2 separate regions of the Homo sapiens genome follow, and region 1 is linked to region 2. The links come from fine-mapping of genetic effects on gene expression. A gene starts in region 2. The other region holds a variant in brackets. All regions are shown on one strand. Distances are from middle to middle. Region 1 overlaps RUFY3 (RUN and FYVE domain containing 3). Region 2 holds the start of GRSF1 (G-rich RNA sequence binding factor 1).

Region 1 (2,914 bases), 110 kb before region 2:
GCCTGAAAAGCAGTTTGTGATAGCAGTAATGTTCACGATTATGGATTGTTTGAAATAGTAGCTACAGGTAATCATTATTCTTTTAGCCAAGCATTCTCATGCCCTTCTTTGGATGATTTTTTCAATGTTTTTTCAAACTCCTTTTCAACATACTTACCTGTTCCAGTCAGACTGTGCTTCAGTAAAATCCTGATTATTCTTTTTGTTTTACTATTCTGACTTGTGATTCTTCATGCCCGTGTTATATCAGGAAGGGTAATGGACCCCTGACTCCCTTCATCTACAAGTCCTTCTCTAACAGATCTCACACCTTTCATGTCCTGAATCACTGGTTAGCATCTGGGACATTTGTTTGAATATGCTAGAAATCATTCCCCAGTTATTTAATTCATGGGATTCCTTATTTCTGAAATTATATAGAAAGTTCTTCAGGGCAAACCTTTTCTTTGGCGTTCTTCAGAAGGCCCCATGGTACTGTGTACTATTTATCGTAGATATCCAACAAACTTCTGGTGAACTCAGTGATTCCCTATTACTCCATAAAATCATTTTAAAAGAAAGGATTTGCATGTTACTGTAAAGACACATGCACACGTATGTTTATTGCGGCACTATTCATAGTAGCAAAGACTTGGAACCAACCCAGATATCCATCAATAATACACTGGATAAAGAAAATGTGGCACATATACACCATGGAATACTATGCAGCCATAAAACAGGATGTGTTCATGTCCTTTGCAAGGACATGGATGAAGCTGGAAACCATCATTCTGAGCAAGCTATCACAAGGACAAAAAACCAAACACCGCATGTTCTCACTCATAAGTGGGAGTCAAACAATGAGAACACATGGATACAGGGAAGGGAACATCACACACTGGGGACCTGTCGGTGGGTAGGGGGCTGGGGGGAGGGATAGCATTAGGAGAAATACCTAATATAAATGACGAGTTGATGGGTGCAGCAAACCAACATGGCACATGTATACCTATGTAACAAACCTGCACGTTTTGCACATGTACTCCGGAACTTAAAGTATTAAAAAAAATAAAAAGCCAGGTGCAGTGGCGGGCGCCTGTAATCCCAGCTATGTGGGAGGCCGAGGCAGGAGAATCACTTGAACTCGGGAGGCGGAGGTTGCAGTGAGCCAAGATCGCGCCACTGCACTCTAACCTGGGCAACAGAGTGAGACTCCATTTCAAAAGAAAGAGAGAGAGAGAGAGAGAGAGGAGAGAGAGAGAGAGAGAGAGAGAGGGAGGGAGGGAGGGAGGGAG[A/G]GAGAGAGAGAGAGAGAGAGAGAGAGAAAGAAAGAAAGAAAAATGGATTTTGTCTTCCTCCATTACACACAATTTAATTTATGGTTTCTAATGTTTTCTTTATTTTTAATTGTTTATCTCATATTCTGGACCGACTGTATATTATTTGGAAAATATAAGTTTAGAATAATGTAATAATTTGTTGTTTAAATATATCTTAATAATACGTAGTATTGATAAAAATATGGGACGACTTGGGGCCTCTGCTAGTGGGAATGTGCATTGGTACATCCTTTATAGAAATCATTTTATCATTGTGAATCAAGGACCTTAAAAAATTAATTCTCAGTAATTGTACCAGACACCTATCCTAAGGAAATAATAAGAGATACAAACAAAAAGTTTATGTATGTACTGTATATTTATCACGGTATTCTGACTTCCTGTAACACACTCTTGAGAGCAACTTAAATAGCCTAAGAGGAAAATTATTCAATAAGTTGTAGAACACCTTACACTAAAAATTATTGTGGAACAATATTTGATGTGTAGGGTAATGTTTGGATATAACTTTAAAAGCTGTCTCTTAAGCTGCATATTTACTATAGTCACAATTTTTTTAAGTATAGGTATACATAAACACAAGTAAAAGGAAATGTATCAAAAATATAAAAATTGATTATCTCTGGATAGTGGAATTATGGGTGATTTTTATAATATTCTTTATATTTCTTTATATCTCCCAAATATTCTACAAGAGGACATATTACTCTAATATGAAAACAAATGTTCCTTTTTCAAAGGAAAAATCTTTATGAAAATTAACGGGTGTGCAATCATCCATCCAACAGATATTTGTATTATATATCAGTACCTTCTATGACAGTTTCACACATCTGTGAGTGGGAACATTTGCCTCACAGCAGAGCTACTGCTTTAGATTCAATTTCCATTATAATTTTTTAATATTTCTATTAGGCATTTTATTTTGGGTTTTTTTCAAACACAGACCTGTGTTTATTTACTGGCATGCTCTGTTTTCATAGCTGTTTAAATGCTGTTTGCAGTGTATGGGGTGGCCCACAGTGTCTAGATTTAGAAGCATTTACAGCATTTGATTTATTCCTTTCCTAAGTGTTTGGAAAATAAAACCTGAGTCATTGGGATTCTCTTTTTCACAGAATTGTGTTATTGTTCTTTGCTTTCACTGTGGCACACCCCCTTTTGTAATTGGCCCTTGGTGAGATTACAGAAACATTTGTTGCCACCAGTGCAGTCAGCCTTAGATTTACACTGTCAGGTTCTCTGAGCTGTGATTATGTGTTCAGAAGGCAGTCTCAGTGAACTTCTCAAAGTGAGAAGGTTGTAGCTTTTAATACAGTCTCAGAAGCCTATGGGACAAAGTTTTCTGGACACGGTTCATCCCTTCTTGTTGCTCTGCCCTGAAAATAACCTGGCTAGTCACCCTTTCAAGGTAAGTTTTACCCACTTAGCTTCCAGGATTTTGTAAAATTCTAAATCTGGGTGAGAAATATCAGTAGCTCTGTACTTGTATGCCAGTTCCTATCTAAACCACGAAAGAGGTGCATGCTGCCTCTGATCTGACCGTAACATACTCTGCATAAAATCAGCTTTTCCTTCCTGTTTCAGGACTACTT
Region 2 (2,914 bases):
TAAAGGAGAAGCACAAATTGAATTAAGATAAATATGACCTAAGGAATCAGGGGCTGGGTAGTTAAAAAGTGTGCAGACACTTCCCAGATGCCACGTACCAAGAAGAGAAAGGTTCATCTACAAAGCACAAAATATTTGCAATCTAACTACACACCGACTTTTCTAAAAAAATAAAGAAAAAATGGAAAGGAAAACATTGCAAATTCATTCCTGGGACCCCAAGTTGTGTCCTCAACCCTCAACGCTCCCTCCCATTCACCCCCTCCCCCCAACAGCTAAATCTCCAAACTGCTTTCCCAGACGAGGCGACACACAGTCCTTAAAGACCTTCTGTATGAGTGGAGTTGCAGAGGTGACCTTCAGTAAACCGGGACAGCTCGTCTTTCCCTGGGGACAGGAGAGGGAACGGCGCGATGGGGACAGGCTCCTTCCCTACAAGCCAGCCCACGCAACTGTGTGCGCGCACCTTCCCAGCAGCGGCCGACCGAGAGGCGCCGAGGGCCGCCCAGGCCTAGCGCTCGGGCTGCACGGAAACTCCCAACCCTCCGGCGGGCTCGGGCCTCGCAACTTCACAACCAGCCGGCGGAAAGCAAGAAGATGCGAGGTGGGGGCGTCAGCAGCCTCACGAAACCTACCATGGGCCAGGCGGGGAACAAGGCCTCAACATTCACCCCAGCCACACTTACACTGCCCAACCGACCAGAGACTCGAGGCGAGAACAAAACAAGCAGAAGACCCGACGCCTGGGAGAGCTTCCCTTGTTCCAGGGCCCAATAGGAGCACAGGGTGGACGGGGGCGGGTGTGCGGCGAGTGTCGCGGATCCCCGGGCGTGCCCGCGAGGCGCACACGGAGGGACGGAGGGGCGCGGGGGCGCGTGCACGCGGCCCGGGAGGGATCTCGCGCCAGGTCCCTCACGGCGCCCACGTACCTGGCTGTAGCTGCGCGTCGGGACGGCGGCCGCCGCCGCCAGCGACTGCGGCAGCAGAGAGGCACGGAGGGCAGAGTAGGACGCGGCGGCCGCGGCCGCGGCAGAGGTGGCCACAGCGGGAGGCCCCGCCAGCCTCCCGGGAGGCACAGGCCCGGTCTGGAGGCCACGCGTCTGGGAGGCAGCGGCCGCGGCGGCCCCGAGCAGCAGCAGCAGGCGGCGGCGGCCCGAGACGCCCGACGGGATAGAGCCAGCGGCGGAGTAGAAGGGCAGGCAGGCGGCGCCGGTGCGCCGGCAGCTGCTGCAGTTACAGCCGCAGCCCCGGAGCAGCGCCCCGAGTACCCAGCGCGTGCCGGCCATGGACTCCGGAGGCGGCGCAGGGCCTGAAGGCAGCTGCTCCAGCAGCGATGGTGGAACGGAAGTGGAATCCAGGGCCGGTTGGGGGTGGGGTGTGCCTGGCACATGCGCCGCGGGCACTGGGTGGGGGGCCTCCGAGAGTCGGAAGGAGGTGGAGGAGAGCGCGACGCTCCGCCCAGTCTCCGCCCTTGGGCGGGGCTGCCCATGGTTTGGGCGGGGCTGCCCATGGTTTGGGCGGGGCTGCCCATGGTTTGGGCGGGGCTGCCCATGGTTTGGGCGGGGCTGCCCATGGTTTGGGCGGGGCTGCCCATGGTTTGGGCGGGGCTGCCCATGGTTTGGGCGGGGCTGCCCATGGTTTGGGCGGGGCTGCCCATGGTTTGGGCGGGGCTGCCCATGGTTTGGGCGGGGCTGCCCATGGTTTGGGCGGGGCCCGGGGAAGTGGGTGCAATCGAACTGCTCTTTTTTCAGGCGGTGGAAACTGAGGCCCAAAGTAAGTGAGGCTAGGGGCCTGGCGCAGTGACTCATTCGTAGTGACTCATTCTTGTAATCCTAGCACTTTGGCAGGCAGAGGCGGGTGGACTGCCTGAGGTCAGGAGTTCGAGACCAACCTAGGCAACACGGTGAAATCCCGTCTCTACTAAAATACAAAAAATTAGGTCGGACGCGGTGGCTCCCGCCTGTAATCCCAGCACTTTAGTAGGCCGAGGTAGGGCGGATCACCTGAGGTCAGCAGTTCAAGACCAGCCTGGCCAACATGGTGAAACTGTGTCTCTACTAAAAACACAAAAATTAGCCGGGTGTGGTGACGGGTGCCCGTAATCCCAGCTACTCAGGAGGCTGAGGCAGGAGAATCGCTTGAACCCAGGAGGCGGAGGTTGCAGTGAGCCAAGATCGTGCCACCGCACTGCAGCCTGGGCGACAGAGTGAGACGCCATCTCCAAACAAACAAACAAAAAAATTAGGTTAGGGCCATCCTGCTCTGGGTAGGGCCGAGAGCTGTAGCACAAGTCTGTGCTGCCCTGCGCTGTGCCACCGAAACCCGTGGTGTGAGTGGCTAAAGAACCCTTTCTGAAAGGAATTGTGATACCTTGGTTATAAAAAAATCGTTGGGATAATATCAGAGATTTGGTACCCCCCGAATTTGAGGTATGTGAGGAAGGAGAACTTCGTTGTTTTAAAATGAAATATAGGCCTGGCGTGGTGGCTCATGCCTATAATCCCAGCGCTTTGGGAGGCTGAAGTGAGAGGATCACTGGAGCCCAAGAGTTCCAGACCAGCCTGGGCAACATAGGGAGACCCCGTCTATACAAAAAATAAATAAAGCTGGGTGTGATGGCGTGGGCCTGTAGTCCCAGCTACTTGGGAGGCCGATTGCTTCAGCCCAGAAGGTAGAGGCTGTGGTAAGCTATGATTGCCACCACTGAACTCCAGCCTGGGTGACAGAGTGAAACCCTGTCTCTAAAAAAATAAAAGAAAACATATATATTTATTATGTACTGATAATACATAACAAAGGTGAACCCTCCCCTAATGAAACTGTATTCACAAGTGAACACACAGAGATTTGCACACACATACACAAAGACTGGTTGTGCAGCTTTTCTCCTCCTGAGCCAGGACTTGTCAAAGAC

The links. PIP is the estimated chance that this variant, and not a neighbour inherited with it, causes the effect.
Region 1: its variant is fine-mapped to the expression of GRSF1 in whole blood (INTERVAL, PIP 0.94).

Annotation. Positions count from the first base shown.
Region 1 is chr4:70,731,864-70,734,777 of GRCh38, forward strand. The region is part of intron 1 of RUFY3 (RUN and FYVE domain containing 3); the gene reads left to right. Among named protein-coding and RNA genes, the nearest start is that of RUFY3, 11 kb to the left of the region's middle. The variant A/G (reference allele first, on the strand shown) is at 1,278.
Region 2 is chr4:70,838,542-70,841,455 of GRCh38, forward strand. GRSF1 (G-rich RNA sequence binding factor 1) reads right to left here and starts at 1,349. Exons shown (of 10, transcript NM_002092.4): 1 at 930-1,349. The coding sequence starts at 1,286. LOC124900710 (a long non-coding RNA gene) reads left to right here and starts at 451. Exons shown (of 3, transcript XR_007058131.1): 1 at 451-604. RefSeq lists enhancers at 52-706, 707-1,360 and silencers at 757-1,306, 1,367-1,616.